Regions from separate parts of the Homo sapiens genome. Here region 1 is linked to region 2. Evidence: fine-mapped expression QTL. A gene starts in region 2. The other region holds a variant in brackets. All regions are shown on one strand. Distances are from middle to middle. Region 1 overlaps TJP3 (tight junction protein 3). Region 2 holds the start of TJP3 (tight junction protein 3).

Region 1 (9,474 bases), 31 kb before region 2:
TCCTGCCTCAGCTTCCTGAGTAGCTGGGATTACAGGCATGCGCCACCATGTCCAGCTAATTTTTTGTGTTTTTAGTAGAGATGTGGTTTCACCATGTTGGCCAGGCTGGTCTCGAACTCCTGACCACTGCGCCCGGCCTCCTAGTCTATCTTAATTGTTTTTGTTTTTTTTTTTTTTGACAGAGTCTCATTCCGTCGTCAGGCTGGAGTGCAGTGGCATGACCTCGGCTCACTGCAACCTCTGCCTCACGGGTTCAAGCAATTCTCCTGCCTCAGCCTCCCGAGTAGCTGGGACTACAGGTACGCGCCACCACACCTAGCTAATTTTTGTATTTTTAGTAGAGACGGGGTTTCACCATGTTAGCCAGGATGGTCTCAATCTCTTGACCTCGTGATCCACCCGCCTCGGACTCCCAAAGTGCTGGGATTACAGGCATGAGCCACCGCACCCGGCCATTGTTTCTACAGTTGTTAATTTGGAGTCTTCTCCAAGGGACCTTGCCTGTCGTGTTCACTGCTGTCTCAGAAGATCAATAAATTTCTCTTAAACAAATAACAGGTGGCACTTTGCCTCAATTGGCAATGGCTACCTGGTGAACTGTGTTAAGAAGGATTTGGAGGTTCTATCCAGACAAACGGTGCCAAGATGGATTGAGGATGTCTGGCTTGGGTATTGGGGGGGGCACTGGTGGCCCATCTGCTTCATGTTTGCCATCATTATTCTAACTCTCCCCCGACCCCCCACAAAAAAACAGTTGTGAAACTATTTCACCAACGAGGTTTCCAGAGGATCTGGCTTCTCACCTGCGATTTCAAACTGGTCAGGCATCTCAGCAGTCAACTTCTGCATAGCAATGTCGGCCACGGGTCCCAGGATCACTACCGGGCGCTTGAAACTGGCTGAGGGGTAGAGACACAGTGAAAGAATCAGGGTCCCATTTGCGATCAAAGACTGCTAGTGTGTTGTACAAACCCCTCCACTTCCTTATAGTAAACAGCCTATTTAACCAGGACCATAGCTACCCAGCCAAATACTACATCTCCCAGTGTCCTTTGCAGCTAGGTTAGCCTTATGACCAAATAATGGCCAATGGAACACTAGCAGAATTGATGTGTACATTTCTGGGTTCCGCCTTCAAGGGCAGGAATAAGCCCCTCTCCTGCCTTCATTCCCTTTCTTCCTGGCTGTAGGGTCTCTTTTTAGCAGTTGAACCTAGCTAACTCATAGGTCAGCAGACTACAACCTGAGGGCCACATCTGGCCCACTGCATGTGTTCGTCAATAAAGTTTTATCAAAACACAGTCACAACCATTTCTTTATGTCCTGTCTATGGCTACCTTTGAGCAGAGCTGAGTAGTTCTGCCAGAGACTAGCCCACAAAGCCTAAAATAGTTACTATGTGATCCTTTGCAGGAAAAGTATGTTGACACCTGGCCTACCAGATACACCATTTTACCACTGAAGAAACAGTCACAGAAGCGTCTTGAGGGGAGAAAAGTGGTAGCCCAGGGTCTTTGCAACTTAATCCTTCTCTTTCTCCCTTTCTTTCTTTTATTTTATTTACTTTTTTTTTTGAGATGGAGTCTAGCTCTGTGGCCCAGGCTGGAGTGCAGTGGCGCAATCTTGGCTCACTGCAACCTTCACCTTCCAGGTTCATGCAGTTCTCCTGCCTTAGCCTCCTGAGTAGCTGGGATTACAGGCGTGCGCCACCATGCCTGGCTAATTTTTGTATTTTTAGTAGAAACTGGGTTTCACCATGTTGGTCAAGCTGATCTCGAACTCCTGACCTCGTGATCCGCCCGCCTCGGCCTCCCAAAGTGCTGGGATTACAGGCGTGAGCCACCGCACGTGGCCTATTTACTTATTTTTTTGAGACAGAGTCTTGCTGTGTCACCGAGGCTGGCGGTGCAGTGGCTTAATCTTGGCTCACTGCAACCTCCATCTCCCAGGTCCAAGTGATTCTCCTGCCTCAGCTTCCTGAGTAGCTGGGATTAGAGGCGCCCACCACCACGCCCGGCTAATTTTTGTATTTTCAGTAGAGACGGGGTTTCACCACGTTGGCCAGGCTGGTCTCGAACTCCCGAACTCAGGTGATCCACCCACCTCCCAAAGTGCTGGGATTACACCTCGGCCTCCCAAAGTGCTGGGATTACAGGCGTGAGCCACCACGCCTGGCCGTGGCCTTGTATTTCTAGGACGTTTTCATCTGGATGTTGGAGCAGCGCGATGACAGTGTCAAAGGCTTTTCTCAAGGTCCATCCACCCACCCCTGTCCCGGGCAATTTGCTCTTCCCACCCCTTTTGTGGTTTTATTTGGAAAATCGCTGCACCTGGGTTTTTAACCCCCTGTCCTCTGATAAGAGCTTAATCTCTTCCCTTCCTGAAATCAGGATGAGGCATTTTTCCCCCCAGAGTCTGGCTTTGTTGCCCAGGCTAGAGTGCAGCAGCATGATCATAGCTCTCCGCAGCCTCGACCTCCTGGGCTCAAGGGATCCTCCCACCTCAGCCTGCCAAGTAGCTGGGACTACTGGCGTACCACCACACCTGGCTAATTTATTTTTTATTTTGTAGAGACAGAGTCTCACTTTGCTGTCCAGGCTGGTCCCAGACTCCTGGGCTCAAGTGACCCACCCATCTTGGCCTCCCAAAGTGCTGGGATTACAAGCGTGAGCCACCACGCCCGGTCAAAGAAGATAAATTATTAAAATTATTATTATTGCTATTTCTTTTTCCTTTTGTAAGGCTATCTACATGCCTTGCACCATATTTCTGTTGGAGACACAAATAGATTTTTAAGGAATGAACCCCCTTCCTGTCCTTCTGTCCCCTAAAATAACCCAAAATTTTTTTGTTTTTTTGTTTTTTTTGAGACGGAGTTTTGCTCTTGTTGCCCAGGCTGGAGTGCAGTGGTGTGATCTCCGCTCACTGCAACCTCTGCCTCCCGGGTTCAAGTGATTCTCCTGCCTCAGCCTCCCAAGTAGCTGGGATTATAGGCACCTGCCACCATGCCCAGCTAATTTTTTGTACTTTTAGTAGAGATGGGATTTCACCATGTGGGCCAGGCTGGTCTAGAGCTCCTGACCTCAGGTGATCCACCTGCCTCAGCCTCCCAAACCATTGAGATTACGGGCGTGAGCCACCGCACCCAGGCCCAAAAGTATTTTTGATAGAAGGAGAGTGGTTAGAAACATGCTTTTTTTTTTTTTTCTTTTGAAGACAGTGTCAATCTGTGGCCCAGGGTGGAGTGCAGTGGTGCGATCATAGCTCACTGCAACCTCTGCCTCCCGGGTTCAAGTGATTCTCCTGCCTCAGCCTCCCAAGTAGCTGGGATTACAGGCGCCTGCCACCATGCCCAGCTAATTTTTTGTACTTTTAGTAGAGATGGGATTTCACCATGTGGGCCAGGCTGGTGCGATCATAGCTCACTGCAACCTCGACCTCCCAAGCTCAAGCAATCTTCCTGCCTCAGCTTCCCAAGCAGCGGGGACTATAGGTATGCACCACCATGCCCAGCTATCTTTTTAAATTTGATGTAGAGGCCGGGCGTGGTGGCTCACGCCTGTAATCTCAGCATTTTGGGAGGCTGAAGCGGGTGGATCGTGAGGTCACGAGTTCAAGACCAGCCTGGCCAACATGGTGAAACCCCGTCTTTACTAAAAATACAAAAATTAGCTGGGGGCGGGGTGATGGGCGCCTGTAATCCCGGTTACTTGGGAGGCTGAGGCAAGAGAATCGCTTGAATCAGGGAGGCAGGGGTTGCAGTGAGCTCAGATCACGCTATTGCACTCCAGCCTAAGACAGAGCAAGACTCTGTCTAAAAATAAAAATAAAAACAAAAATAAATAAATAAATAAATTTGAGGTAGAGATGTAGTCTTGCTTTACCGCCCAGGTTGATCTGGAACTCCTGGCCTCAGCGATCCTCCTACCTCGGCCTCCCAAAGTGTTGGGATTATAGGCGTGAGCCACCACGCCGGGCCAAGACTGTGCCTTTTAGAGGCTGAATGTTAGTGAACAGGTGCACCAGGAGCTGTGTGTGAGGCCTCCCCAGGGCCCCTCCAGCTCCGGGCCCCACCTTCTCGCAACACCACTCGTTCGTAGGGCGGGTAGCGGCCCTGTCGGGTCAGAGCTGAGAGGTCCTCACGGCTCCGCTGAGTGGTCTTCTTGGCTCCTCGACGAAGACCCCGCAGCCGCCAGAACTCGGCCCGAGCATTGGAGCCCGCGGAGGAGCCGGGCCCGACTCCCACGGCCCTCTGGGCAGCTTCCAGGCTGGCCAGCTGCTCCGCCCTGGGGAGAAGAGGGGACAGTACTGAGCACTGGGGTCAGCAGCATGGTGGCCCCAAAGACGTCCTCGTCCTACCCCTCGGAGCCTGTGGACAGGCCACTTTGTATGGCAAAAGGGACTCTGCAGATGGGATTATTATTACTATTATTATTATTTTGGGTTTTTTGAGACAAAGTCTTGCTCTGTCACTCAGGCTGGACTCGTTACAACCTCTGCCTCCTGGGTTCAGGCGATTCTCCTGCCTCACTTTCCCAAATAGCTGGGATTACAGGTGCCCGCCACCACGCCCAGCTAATCTTTATTATTTATTTATTTACTTTTTTGAGATAGAGTCTCGCTCCGTCGCCAGGTTGGAGTGCAGCGGTGCAATCTCTGCTCACTGCAACCTCCGCCTCCCAGGTTCAAGCGATTCTCATGCCTCAGCCTCCCAAGTAGCTGGGATTACAGGTATGCACCACCACGCCCAGCTAATTTTTGTATTTTTAGTAGGGATGGGGTTTCACCATGTTGGCCAGGATAGTCTCAATCTCTTGACCTCGTGATCTGCCCGCCTCAGCCTCCCAAAGTGCTGGGATTACAGGCGTGAGCCACCGTGCCTGGCCTGCAGATGGGATTAAACTGATGCTATTGAGGTGGATGATGATCCTGGGTGACCCAGGGGACCCGATGTCCTCACAGGGTCCTCACAAGAAGAGGCGGGAGGGTGAGAGTCAGAGAGAGACTAGAAGAGGCTGTGCTGTGGCTATGAAGGGGGAGGAAGGGGCCCCGAGCTGAGGGATGCGGCCCCTCTAGACTCTGGGAAAGGTGGAAAATTGGTTTTCTCCTGGAGCCTCTGGGAGGGCCCAGGCCTGCCCATACCTTGACTTTAGTACTTTTGC[T/C]CTCCAGAACTGTAAGAGGATGTGTGTGTTGTTTAAAGCCACTAAGTTTCTGGGCATCTGTTACAGCAACAACAGGAAGCTCATACCAGCACCAAATGGGGCCCGCCCAGAGCCTTTTGTGGACCTCCTCAGATTGAACCACCAACACTGCTAAGCAGTGATATCATGCCTATTTATTTATTTATTGAGACAAGAGTCTCACTCTGTTGCCAGGCTGGAGTGCAGTGGCGTGATCTCGGCTCACTGTAACCTCTGCCTCCCAGGTTCAAGCGATTCTCCTGCCTCAGCCTCCCAAGAAGCTGGGATTATAGGCATGTGCCACCACGCCCAGCTAATTTTTGTATTTTTAGTAGAGACGAGGTTTCACCATGTTGCCCAGGATGGTCTCGATCTCTTGACCTCATGATCTGCCCACTTCAGCCTCCCAAAGTGCCAGGATTACAGGCCTGAGCCACCGCGTCCAGCCCAATCGAGCCCATTTCTAACGGGGAGACTGAGGCTGAAGCAGAAGTGCCCCACTGCAGGAGCACACAGTCCCCACCTGCTCTGGTTGGGAATGATGCCCCGCTCTTGCTCCCGCAGGTCACGACCCATGCGCACCGCCAGCCAGTGGCCTCCTCGTGCGTGGCTCTGCCCGGGGCCGGGGTGCAGCGTGTCCAGCACGTGGAAGACGTCGCCACGGGTGAAGCCCAGGCCAGACGGTGGACTGGGCTCCAGCTCAAAGTGAGTGCGGATGTAGAAGGAGTCACCCACGCGGGACTGCACCATTTTCCAGAAAACTGGGGAGAGCGGGAGGCCACATGAGCTGCCTGGGCTGCTGCCTGATCTGAGCCCTCCCCACCCGAGAGTGGGCCTGGCTGGAGATTTGGGGCACTCTCCCTGTAGGGGCCAGGGAGAGGGATGGAGGGTGCAGAGATGCAGATTCAACCACATCCCTGCACTCACCACCAGGCCACACAGCCAGGTCCTCCCCCCGCAACACACAGGCACACCCATATCCACGCGCACTCACTGTCCTGCTTCCTCTGCGTCACCAGCTCCATCTCCTCGCCTGGTGGCAGCCCCAGCAGGAACTGCACTGCCTCCTCCCGTGTCAGGTTCTGGAATGGCACGTCATTCACCTGCCAGAAAGCAAGTGCAGCTATAGAAAAAGCTCTGGTACCTCTTGGGCGTGCATGAGATCCTGGACCTTCCTCTGGGCAAAACTCAGCCCCAGCTGCTTCCAGAGCTGCTGCCAAGGGACCCGGCAGTTCCCCGAGGGCTTTCCGACTGGGGTATCACCCTATGGCTGTGTGATGTGTGACACAGACAGCTGGTGGCATTGTAAGGATACAAGAGTTTTGACACAGAAACGGGCACAGGCACTGCACTTGTCCTCAGATAACCAAATCATGGTGGGTTGTCAATATCAAAACATGGGAACAGAGGTCATGGCATGGAGCTCGATGGAAACTGTGTGAAATGCTCAAAAGAACTCAGACGTAGTCACAGTAGTCACAGGGTCGTGACAGGGACAACGATATATGGACACACAGTGGGTCACAGATGCCTACCACCAGGGTCATGACAGGGACAACAATATATGGACACAGCCATCTGCTCTCCGGGTCATGACATGGACAGCAATATACAGACACAGCCACCTGCTCTCAGGGTCATGACATGGACAGCAATATACAGCCACCTGCTCTCCGGGTCATGACATGGACAGCAATATACAGCCACCTGCTCTCAGGGTCACGACATGGACAGCAATATACAGACACAGCCACCTGCTCTCAGGGTCATAACAGGGACAGCAATATACTTGCACAGCTTGTGGGCACAGACACCTACTCTCGGGGTCATGACGTGGATGTCAAGGTTAGAATCCCACAAGCAAAATGAGTAGAAATACAGTAAAAAATACCATGACCCTCAGGCAATTTGGCATCAAGTTTTCACCCAGCCAGTGGGCTTATGACATGGAAAGTGGGGAGCTGTGACTCCATCATGAATCACAACTCACACTGCAAGGTCAAGACACAAGCAAGGTCATGAGAGCAAAGTGGGGGTGAGACTTGGTGAGTGAACTCGCGCAAGGGACAGGGGAGACAGCCTGGGGATGAGATGAGGCAAGGACAGAGATGGGGGGATGATGAGGGGCTGTGGATCCTGGAGGTAGTTATGACACTGTCATGAAGGCAGGACACAGGCAAGGTCACAACACAGACACAGGGGATGGTGGCACAGAAAATGACTATAAGTGGACATGGAGATCATGAGAGAATGATCTGTGACCTGACCACACGATTAGGACATACAAGACGGTCATGACACGGTCAACACAGCCAATGTCAGGAACAAGAGGATTGCGACCCAGACAAGGTCATGACATAGGCAATGAGGCTGTGACCCAAAGTCCTGACATTGATAACAAGGAGATTGTGACATTGATAACAAGAATGTCACATGAACAATGTCATATGACATGAACAACAAGATTGTTGTTCCCAATCTTGAGCACAGTGTCTCAAGCTTATAATCTCAGCACTTTGGGAGGCTGAGGCGGGTGCATCACTTGAGGCCAGGAGTTCAAGACCAGCCTGGCCAACATGGTGAAACCCTGTCTCTACTAAAAACACAAAAATTAGCTGGGCATGGTGGCGGCCACCTGTGATCCCAGCTACTTGGGAGGCTGAGTCAGGATGATCCCTTGAACCCGGGAGGCGGAGGTTGCAGTGAGCCAAGATCACACCCCCGCACTCCAGCCTGGGTGACAGAGCAAGACTCTATCTCAAAAAAAAAAAAAAAAAAAGTTAGCCAGGCGCAGTGGCTCATGCCTGTAATCTCAGCTACTTGGGAAGCCGAGGCAGGTGGATCACCTGAGGTCAGGAGTTTGAGACCAGCCTGGCCAACATGGCGAAACCCTCATCTCTACTAAAAATATAAAAATTAGCCGGGCGTGGTGGTGGACAACTGTAATCCCAGCTACTCAGGAGGTGAGGCAGAAGAATTGCTTGAACCTGGGAGGCAGAGGTTGCGGTGAGCCAAGATCACACCATTGCACTCCAGCCTGGGCAACAAGACCAAAACTCCATCTCAAAAACAACAACAACAAAAAATGAACCCAGATAAGGTCAAGGCACAGAAAAGGAGGTTGTAACTGGACGATGAGGTCATGACCTGGAAGATAAGGTCGTGACATCAGCAAAATCATGACACAGCCAAGGAGACACTGAAATGTTCAAATACCCATCTGGGGTCTCGACAGTCCCCAGGTGGACCCAAGGGGAGGACTGGAACAGACAAGGGCAGGACCTAGCACACTGCACGCCCATGATCAGTGGGGCTGGCCAGCCGCCCCCGGAGCACCTGCAGAATCTGATCTCCCTCCTGGATGCCCTGCCCGTCGGCCGGGCTGCCCGCCTGCACCCCGGACACGAAGATGCCCACGTCATTGCCCCCTGCCAGCCGCAGCCCGATGCTCTTGCCCTTGAGGAAGCGGACCACACGCGTGTCGGGGCTGTACCTGCAAGGGGAGGCAGAGATGGGGTCAGAGCAGAGTGGGCGGACAAAGGGAGGGCTCAGCATTGTCCTTGGGAAAGCCCCCACCCCCTCCAGGCCTCAGTTTCCCCAAAACCCCCACTTAATGGTCCCACTCAACACAATGGATACAAGCAGGCAGGATTGCGCTGATGAGGGAGGCAGCCTGGGATGTAGGAGTTTTGAGCGGGTTTGCTTTCTTCTGGGGTACATACCCACGATCCTCCATGCTCTGACTGCTGGGCACTCTGTAGATGTCATAGCTGCTTTCCCTGGGCAACTCTGAAAGGGAAAAGCCAGTCTCTTTCCCAAGCACACTGGCTCAGTCCAGCCTCCAAACCTTTGCTTTATGTCCTCATCCTGGAAGGACTGTCACCCACCTCGAGTCCTTCTCAGGAAACCATGTCTCACCACTTAGGCTCAGGCCAACCTCCCCCAGCTCTGCCTGGCACAGCCTTGCTGTCAGGGATCAGAAATGTCAGGGACAGGGGTGCTCAGAGTCACCACCCACCTGACCGTTGCTCATCTGGTTCCGAGATGGTTCTGGAATCTACTGAACTTTCCCGCCGAAGCCGGGGACTCTCCCTGGTGGGGAACAGATTGGGAGTGAGGCAGGGATGGATTTCAAGGGGCCATTTTAAAAAGAATTTTAGGCCGGGCACGGTGGTTCATGCCTGTAATCCTAGCATTTTGGGAGGTCGAGGTGGGCAGATCACCTGAGGTCAGGATTTCAAGACCAGCCTGGCCAACGAGGTTAAACCCCGTCTCTCCAAAAATACAAAAATTA
Region 2 (9,474 bases):
GGCCAACACGGTGAAACTCCGTCTCTACTAAAAATACAAAAAAAAAAAAAAAATTAGCTGGGCATGTTGGCGGGCGCCTGTAGTCCCAGCTACTCGGGAGGCTGAGGCAGGAGAATCACTTCAACCTGGGAGGCGGAGGTTGCAGTGAGCCGAGATCGTGCCACTGCACTCCAGAGCCTGGGCGACAGAGCGAGACTCTGTCTCAAAAAAAGAAATAAATAAATAATAATAATAATTTTAAAGTTACAGAAAAGTAAATACACAGAGAATTCCTTTATACACCCAACTGATTTCCACTAACATTAACATTATTACACGGGTACATATGTCAAAACCAAGAAGTCAACATCAGTACAACCTTGTTCACTGAACTCCACACTTTATTCACGTCTCTCCGCAGGCCCTTTGCCGCCCCAGGGCCCCATCCAGGATCCCACCTGGTAGTTGGCTGTCACGTCTCCTTAGACACCGCTGGGCTGTGACCGATTCTGTCTTTCCTGTTCTGTGACCTGTTAGTCTGTGCTGGGCAGGTCTTTTGCAGAATAACTCTCAATGTGGGGACATTGGGGACCAGCTGTTTCCCTCATGACTAGACTGGCGTCATGGGTTTTGGGGGACCCTGGGAGGTTTTAAGGAAGCCGTGTGGAGAGGACGGGGCAGGAGCAGAGACAGAGAGCAGAGATGGAGGGCAGCCAGGTGGGAGGAGACGCCCCGGTCTGTGGGTTGCCAAGATCCAAACGACCTTTGAGGAAGGGCAGATTCTAGGTGTGGCCGGCTCAGCCCTAAGGCACTGGAGGGCTGAAGAACGTCTCAGGGTTTGGCGTCCTGGGGAGGCTGGAGGACCTCATGGGGGGCACTTTGAAGTAGGACTCATGGGGGGCACTTTGAAGTAGGAGGAGTGTGGAACCTGCTAGAAGCTTGGAGTATGGAATGCAGCTCAGGGTGTTCAACAGGGGACTTTCTTTTCTTTTCTTTTTTTTTTTTTTGAGACAGAGTCTTGCTCTGTCACCTAGGCTGGAGTGCAGTGGTGCAATCATAGCTCACTGCAGCCTCCACTTTCCTGGGCTCAAGCGATCCTCCCACCCCAGCCTCCTGTGTAGCTGGGGCCACAGGTGCACGCCACCCTGCCCAGCAGATTTTTGTATATTTTGTAGAGACGGTATCTCGCTATGTTGCCCGGACCTGTCTTGAACTGCTGGGCTCATGCGATCCTCCCACCTCGGCCTCCCAAAATGTTGGGATTCCAGGCGGGAGCCACCAAGCCATGCCAAAGATGCCATTTCCCCCAAAAGGGAGGACGGCTGAGCTCTAGAAGGAAGTTCCACAGCAGAGAGAGAAAAGCAGAGCCCATGTGAATTCCAGCCCCTGCCTCAGCTTCCTCATCTGTAAAACGGGGATCCCGGTTTTGACCCTGAGCAGTATTTCAGGGAAGGCTCAAAGGTTTAAGCATCTGCCACTAAGGATCCCCTGGGCTGCCTCTCCATGCTTCTAACTCCACTCGGGCCCCCAGTGGGAAAGCCAAAGGTGAATTACAGTGTCCCAGGGCTAGAGGGGGCCCCCTGCCCCATGGAAACCATCTACGCTAAGGTGCTGTCATTCTGGGCACGGAATGACATTTTTGAGATGGAGTCTTGCTCTGTCTCTGGGGCTGGAGTGCAGTGGTGCGATCCCGGCTCACTGCAACCTCTGCCTCCCAGGTTCAAGCAATTCTCCTGCCTCAGCCTCCCAAGTAGCTGGAATTATAGGCACACGCCAACACACCTGGCTAATTTTTGTATTTTTAGTAGAGACAGAGTTTCACCACGTTTGCCAGGCTGGTCTCAAACTCCTGGGCTCAAGTGACCCACCTGCCTTGGCCTCCCAAAATGCTGGGATTACAGGCGTGAGCCACCGTGTCTGGTCCAGAGGAGAACTGAAAGAACACACACACACAGGCAATCAAGAATGCTGAGGCCGGGTCGGTGGCTCTCGCTTGAAATCCCAGCACTTTGAGTGGCTGAGGCTGGCAGATCACTTGAGCCCAGAAGCTCGAGACCAGGCCGGCCAACACAGCAAAACCCCATTTCTATTTTCAATTTTTAAAAAAAAGAAAGAAAGGAAACAAATTAATTCCCCTCTGTATAGGCTATAAAGTCTTACCGGTTCCCATATTAATTAATGAATTAAGCAGACACATAAAGCACCTTTTTTTTTTTTTTTGTACTTTTAGTAGAGACAGGGTTTCACCATGTTAGCCAGGCTGGTCTTGAACTCCTGACCTCGTGATCCACCCGTCTCGGCCTCCCAAAGTGCTGGGATTACAGGCGTGAGCCACCGCATCCGGCCTCATTTTGTATTTGTATGAGAGTAATGATTTTACTATTTTGGGAAAAAATATCCTTTAATATCATAAAGCCAAATGTCTTCAGGCCAGCATTTAAAGCTCTCCCTTCATTTTGGCCGGACGCGGTGGCTCACGCCTGTAATCCCAGCACTTTGGGAGGCCGAGGCGAGCGAATCACCTGAGATCAGGAGTTCGAGACCAGCCTGACCAATACGGTGAAACCCTGTCTCTACTAAAAATACAAAAATTAGCTGGGCGTGGTGGTGGGCGCCTGTAATCCCAGCTACTTGGGAGGCTGAGACAGGAGAATCGCTTTGAACCCAGGAGGTGGAGGTTGCAGCGAGCGGAGATCGTTCCACTGCACTCCAGCCTGGGCAACAGAGCGAGACTCCATCTCAAAAAAAAATAAAATAAGGCCGGGCATGGTGGCTCACGCCTGTAATCCCAGCACTTTGGGAGGCTGAGGTGGGCGGATCACAAGGTCAGGAGAGACCATCTTGGCTACCACGGTGAAACCCCGTCTGTACTAAAAATACAAAAAATTAGCCGGGTGTGGTGGCGGGCGCCTGTAGTCCCAGCTACTCGGGAGGCTGAGGCAGGAGTATGGCGTGAACCCGGGAGGCGGAGCTTGCAGTGAGCCGAGATCGCGCCACCGCACTCCAGCCTGGGCGACAGAGCGAGACTCCGTTTCAAAAAAATATAAAAAGTAAAATAAAGTTACAAAGCGCCTCTCACGCATGTTACCCTCTGTGCAGCCATTGGCTCCATTACTGCGCTCTTGTTTCATGTCTGTCTTTCCCCACCAAAATATGCGCCCCACGAGAGCAGGAAGCTTGGCCTGCCTTGCTCACTGCTGAATCTCCAAGGCCTGGTGACCCCACACTCGCGCATACAGTAAGTGCACAATAAATGCCCGTTCGCTCCCTGGGCGACCCCTCCCCCCAGCCTAGGCTTCCGCTAACCTCAATCCATTCCAAAGGGTGTCAGGTTCCACCCTGAGCAAACACAGCTCCCCTGGCCCCTGGCCAGCCCTAAAGAGGAAGAACAAGTACCCATACTCCCTGCCCTGGACTTTCCCCGGGACTCAGGGCCACGAGGAAGCACCAAGCCAGGGGGCAGGACTTTCTCGAGATGCTGAGCCTGAGGCATCAGCTGGGGGCAGGGCCAGCCTCCAGAGCACCACCCCCGCCACCAGCTCCCTGTCCTCTGCGTCTTGACTCTTGGCCGCCTGACATTTCTACTTGGCTGTGCGGCCCGGGGTAAGCGGCTGTCCTTCTCTGAGCCAGGGTTCATCCTCTACAAACCAGGAAGCTGATGAGACCAGACTCCGATTCGGACCGGGATAGCTCGTCTTGACCCCAGAATGACCGAGAATCTGTTACCCGCTTTATTACATCCGGCACTCAACAGCCCTGTGCCTTGGTGACTCCATATCCCCCCACCCCTTTTTTTTTTTTTTTTTTTGAGACAGAGTCTCACTCTGTTGTCCAGGCTGGAGTGCAGTGGCACAATCTCGGCTCACTGCAACCTCCACCTCCTGGGTTCAAGCAATTCTCCTGCCTCAGCCTCCGGAGTAGCTGGGATTACAAGTGCTTGCCACCATATTCGGCTCATTTTTTGTATTTTTAGTAGAGACAGGGTTCCACCATGTTGGCCAGGCTGGTCTCGAACTCCTGACCTTGTGATCCACTCGCCTCGACCTCCCAAAGTGCTGGGATTACAGGCGTGAGCCACCGCGCCCGGCCCTCAATATCCCCATTTTACAGAGCAGGAAACAGAGGCCCGGAGAGAAGGGAGGTGTGGAAGCCAGATCTAACTGAGTCCACGGGTTTGCTCTCAAAACCCAGGCAAGGTGGGATCCATGTCGCCCACCCCCACGGACTCCCGAATCTCAAGCAAGCCTGCTCCCTGGGAGCTCTGCAGCCACACAGCCACAAGGTGACCCCAAATGCCGGGCCGCTCTGTCCCCCACTATGCGATCATCCATGCCTCCTCGGCCCCGGGGGACCCTCTTGGTTCTGGAGAGAGACTTGAGATGCAATCGGACACTTGGCTCACGAGGAAGCTCCCTTGGTCTTCCCATTTGGGAGCAAATGACCCAGAAAAACACTTTTGCTGCCGACCCCTCCCCTCTCTGGCTCTGAGCGCTCCTTCCTCCTTCCCCTCTGCCCCATCCCACAGAGATTTTGCTCGGAGGAGTAAAGATTAGAAAAAGAAGTCTGGGCGCAGTGGCTTGCGCCTGTAATCCCAGCACTTTGGGAGGCCGAGGGGGTTGGATCACCTGAGGTCAGGAGTTCGAGACCAGCCTGGCCAACATGGTGAAACCCCATCTCTACTAAAAATACAAAAATTAGCTGGGCATAGTGGTGGGCGCTTGTAATCCCAGCTACTCGGGAGGCAGAGGTGGAGGCAGAGGTTGCAGTGAGCCAAGATCGCACCACTGCACTCCAGCCTGGGCAACAAGAGCAAAACTCCGTCTCAAAAAAAAAATTAGCAAAAGAAAGGCCACCCCAATCCCTCCCTGCAAAGCTCCTGGAGGTTCCAGCGGTGAGAACAGGGTGAGGGGTTGGGGGGCGGGAGACGCAGTTGTTTCAAAACTTGGGAGCCTTTTAAGAAGTTCCAGGAGGCTCAGAGATGAGTGAGGTCGCAGCCTTTCCCACCTGTCACCTCCTAGCCTCGGGCTGCAGGAGGTAAACCCAGGCTCCGTCTGGACTGATATCCCCTCCCCTCCTCAGTTAGGGGGATCAGAGACCAACCTGTGCCCCTTTGCCGCCTCCCCGGTCCCTGCGCCACCTAGGTAACAATGACCCTTTTAAGTTTCCAGCTCAGCGTCCTGGGCAGGCCGCCAGGTGCAGTAACTGCCGGTCAGATAATCCCTACGAAACTATGTCAGATGCCCACGCAGGAGTGTCAGTTTCCTGCTTTCCGAGGAGCCGGGGAGACAGCTCGTGGTGGGGGAGGTTGGGGGGGAGTCTAAGGACCCTCAGCTGGGGAAGGCCAGCTCAGACAATGCACACTGGGTGGAAAAGCACAGTGGGGCGGGGGACTTACCTGTCTAGGAGGCTGGGTGGCCTCTGGGCAGGCAGCAGGTGCCAGGGCCCGGGTGCCTGCCTGGCACGGGTGGTGGGGAGGGAACCCGAGGCTTGTAGCTCTGGCCTCCCCACCTGTTTGACCAACTTTTCCTCTCTTGTGGTGGCAACAGGGAGGCAGGTCCCCTGCCAGTGGAACTGACGACCACAGACACAGGGAGACGGACCAGGGTGAGGGGCGGGCCAGCAGGAGGACTGGGTGTGTGGCTCTGTCGCAAGGTGCCCTCACGTGGGAGCAACTGGCCTTAACCCCTGCTTGCCCAGAGGTGAGCTTGCTCCTGCCTGTGCCCTCACCGCCGAGGCCCTGGTATCAAGCGTCCGCACATGGTAGGTGCTTAGGAAACCCTCGTTGGCTACATTCAGACATGAATGGACCGCACTCCCGGAGTCCCCCTCCCTCCTGCTTCTTGCATCTGGAGCTGCCCAGTCTCTGTGCTTGCTGAGCCTCCTGCCAGGCACGCCGGCCCATCAGGCTGTGGCTTGGCGCACTCCCTTCCCCACGCAGATCTGTGCGCAGTCTGCCTCTCTGCTACGAAGTGACTGGGTTCCTACGTACAGAAGCTTCTGCCACTTCCCCGCTGTGTGGCTTTGGGCAAATTACAGGGGCTTCTTGCTGTCCTCATCTAAAAAACAAGAAAGGGTCAGGTGTGGTGGCTCACACCTGTAATTCCAGCACTTTGGGAGGCCGAGGTGGGAGGATCACTTGAGCCTGGGAATTTGAGACCAGCCTGGGTAACACGGTGAAACCCATCTCTAGAAAAATTTTTATATATCTTTTGTTTGTTGTTTGTTTTGAGATGGAGTCTCCCTCTGTCACCCAGGCTGGAGTGCAGTGGCGCGATCTCGGCTCACTGCAACCTCCGCCTCCTGGGTTCAAGTGATTCTTCTGCCTCAGCCTCCCAAGTAGCTGGGATTACAGGCGTGCACCACCACGCCCAGCTAATTTTTTTTTTTTTTTTCAGTAGAGACGGGGTTTTCCTATGTTGGCCAGGCTGGTCTCAAACTCCTGACCTCAAGTGATCTGCCCGCCTCGGCCTCCCAAAGTGTTGGGATTACAGGCGTGAGCCACCGAGCCTGGCCTAGAAAAGTTTTTTTGTTGTTGCTGCTGGCTGTTGTTGGTTTTGTTTTGTTTTTTGTTTTTATTTTATTTTTTTTTTATTTTTTTGAGACAGAGTCTTGCTATGTTGCCCAGGCTGGAGTGCAATGGCTTGATCTCGGCCCACTGCAACCTTTGCCTCCCGGTTTCAAGTGATTCTCCTGCCTCAGCCTCCCGAGTAGCTGGGATTGCATTACAGGCACCAGCCATCATGCCCAGCTAATTTTTGTATTTTTGTAGAGACGGAGTTTCACCATATTGGCCAAGCTGGTCTTGAACTCCTGGCCTCAGGTGATCCGCCTGCCTTGGCCTCTCAAAGTGCTGAGATTACAGGCGTGAGCCACCACGCCCAGCCCAGAAAACTTTTTTAAAAATTAGCCAGATGTGGTGGTACACACCTGTAGTCCCAGAAACTCAGGAGGCTGAGGTGGGAGGATCAATTGACCCTGGGAGGTTGAGGCTGCAGAGAGCTATGACTGTGCCACTGCACTCCAACCTGGGTGACAGAGCAAGATCCTATCTCAATAAAATAAAATTAACCAGGAAGGGTTGGGCATGATGGCTCACACCTATAATCTCAGTACTTTGGAGGCCAAGGTGGCAGGATCACTTGAGGCCAGGAATTCGAGACCAGTCTGGGCAACATAGTGAGACACCCCCCCATCTTTACCAGTACATTAAAATTAAAATTTAAAAAATTAAGTCTGGGCTCAATGGCTCACCCCTGTAATCCCAGCACTTTGGGAGGTTGAGGTGGGAGAATTGCTTGAGTTAGGAGTTCGAGACCAGCCTGGCCAACATGGTGAAACCCCATCTCTACTAAAAATACAAAAATTAGCCGGGCAAGGTGGCATGCGTCTGTAATCCCAGCTACTCAGGAGGCTGAGACGGGAGAATCGCTTGAGCCCCAGAGGCAGAGGTTGCAGTGAGCCGAGATCGCGCCACTGCACTCCAGCTTGGGAGACAGAGCAAGACGCTGGCTGAAAAATAAATAAATAAATATTAAAATGCCACCTCACAGAGGTCATGGACTTTGTCGTGCTCATCCCTGCCGTGTCCTATGGCCTAGCACAGTGCCTGGTACACAGTAGGTGCTCAATACATGTTTTTGGAATGAATGGACTAGGGTCCCTCCAGCCTGCAGTACCTCCTGCTGACGGTAGTAGCCACTATGGCCACCAGGCGGCGCCAGAAACCACGCAACCGGCCCCCGCCGGGCAGCCTCGGTTTTCCACCCTGCGTAATGGGGACAGCCAACCAGGGGCGTGGGGGGATGCGGGGAAGGCACAGAAGGCTGGTGGCTCTCCCGGACCCCAGCCCCTCCTCTCTGTCCCTTGCCTCTCCCCTCCTGTCACCCCATCCCTGCCCTAGTTTTCTTTTTTTTAAGTTTTTTGTTTGTTTGTTTGTTTTTGTGTTTTGAGACGGAGTCTCACTCTGTCTCCCGGGCTGGAGTGCAGTGGCGCCATCTCGGCTCACTGCAACCTCTGCCTCCCGGGTTCAAGCGATTCTCCTGCCTCAGCCTCCCGAGTAGCTGGAATTACAGGCATGTGCCACTACGCCTGGCTACTTTTTTGGTATTTTCAGTAGAGGTGGGGTTTCATCATGTTGGCCAGGCTGGTCTCAAACTCCTGACCTCAGGTGATCCACCCACCTCTGCCTCCCAAAGTGCTGGGATTACAGGCGTGACCCACCGCGCCCGGCCAAGAGGCTGCTTTTAACTGCTTGTTTTGATGTTGACTTTTGCGTCTGTAAGTCATGACTGTTCAGCCAGTTTTAGTAATTTTTTTTAAGTATATTTCCTCTTCATTATCCTCATCAATGATCTAACCTCCAGCACTTCCTCCACTTTATCTGGCATCCAAATTGCCTGGAAGGGGGAAGTCATGAACACCCAGATTTTACCACCCCCACCACCCCGCCCAGTTTCTGGTGTGTGAAGTCTGCGTTGGAGCCTGGGAAACTGCATTTCTTTTCCTTTTCTTTGGTTTGAGACAGAGTCTCGCTCTGTCGCCCAGGCTGGAGTGCAGTGGTGCAATCTCGGCTCACTGCAACCTCTGCCTCCTGAGTTCAGGTGATTCTCCTGCCTCAGCCTCCCAAGTAGCTGGGACTACAGGCGCATGCCACCACGCCTGGCTAATTTTTATACTTTTAGTAGAGATGGGGTTTCTCCATGTTGGCCAGGCTGGTCTCGAACTCCTGACCTCAAGTGATCCGCCCACCTTGGCCTCTCAAAGTGCTGGGATTACAGGTATGAGCCACCGTGGCTGGCCCCTTCCCCCAAACTTTATCTGGCACCCAGTTTGCCTGGAAGGGAGGAGTCATGAACACCCAGATTGTGCCCTCCCACCACCCTACTCTGCCCAGTTTCTGGTGTGTGAAGTCTGGGTGGGGGCCTAGGAACCTGCATTTCTTTTACTTTTCATTGTTTGTTTTGAGACCAGGTCTCGCTCTGTTGCCCAGGCTGGACTGTAGTGGTGTGATCATAGCTCACTGCAGCTTCAAACTTCTGGGCTCAAGCGATCCTCCCACCTCAGCCTCCCAAGTAGCTGGGACTACAGGTGTGCACCACCATGCCAGGCTATTTTTGTTTTTTTGAGAGGAGTTTCGCTCTTGCTGCCCAGGCTGGAGCGCAATGGCGAGATCTTGACTCACTGCAACCTCTGCCTCCCGGGTTCAAGCAATTCTCCTGCCTCAGCCTCCTAAGTAGCTGGGATTACAGGCATGCGCCACCATGCCCGACTAATTTTTGTATTTTTAGTAGAGACAGGGTTTCTCCGTGATGGTCAGGCTGGTCTCGAACTCCTGACCTCAGGCGATCCACCTGCCTCAACCTCCCAAAGTGCTGGGATTACAGGCGTGAGCCACTGCATCTGGCCACGCCAGACTAATTTTTAATTTGTTTTGTAGAGATGGGATCTTGCTATGTTGCCCAGGCTGGTCTTGAACTCCTGGGCTAAAGTGATTCT

What was found.
Region 1: its variant is fine-mapped to the expression of TJP3 in whole blood (TOPMed, PIP above 0.99).

Annotation. Positions count from the first base shown.
Region 1 is chr19:3,735,364-3,744,837 of GRCh38, reverse strand. It overlaps TJP3 (tight junction protein 3), which reads right to left. Exons shown (of 21, transcript NM_001267560.2): 9 at 9,199-9,272; 10 at 8,903-8,969; 11 at 8,517-8,673; 12 at 6,175-6,283; 13 at 5,704-5,941; 14 at 4,075-4,286; 15 at 804-899. Among named protein-coding and RNA genes, the nearest start is that of APBA3, 22 kb to the left of the region's middle. RefSeq lists a silencer at 7,811-8,011. The variant T/C (reference allele first, on the strand shown) is at 5,163.
Region 2 is chr19:3,704,462-3,713,935 of GRCh38, reverse strand. TJP3 (tight junction protein 3) reads right to left here and starts at 5,552. Exons shown (of 21, transcript NM_001267560.2): 1 at 5,375-5,552. RefSeq lists enhancers at 386-885, 886-1,387, 3,401-3,946, 4,782-5,443, 5,444-6,107.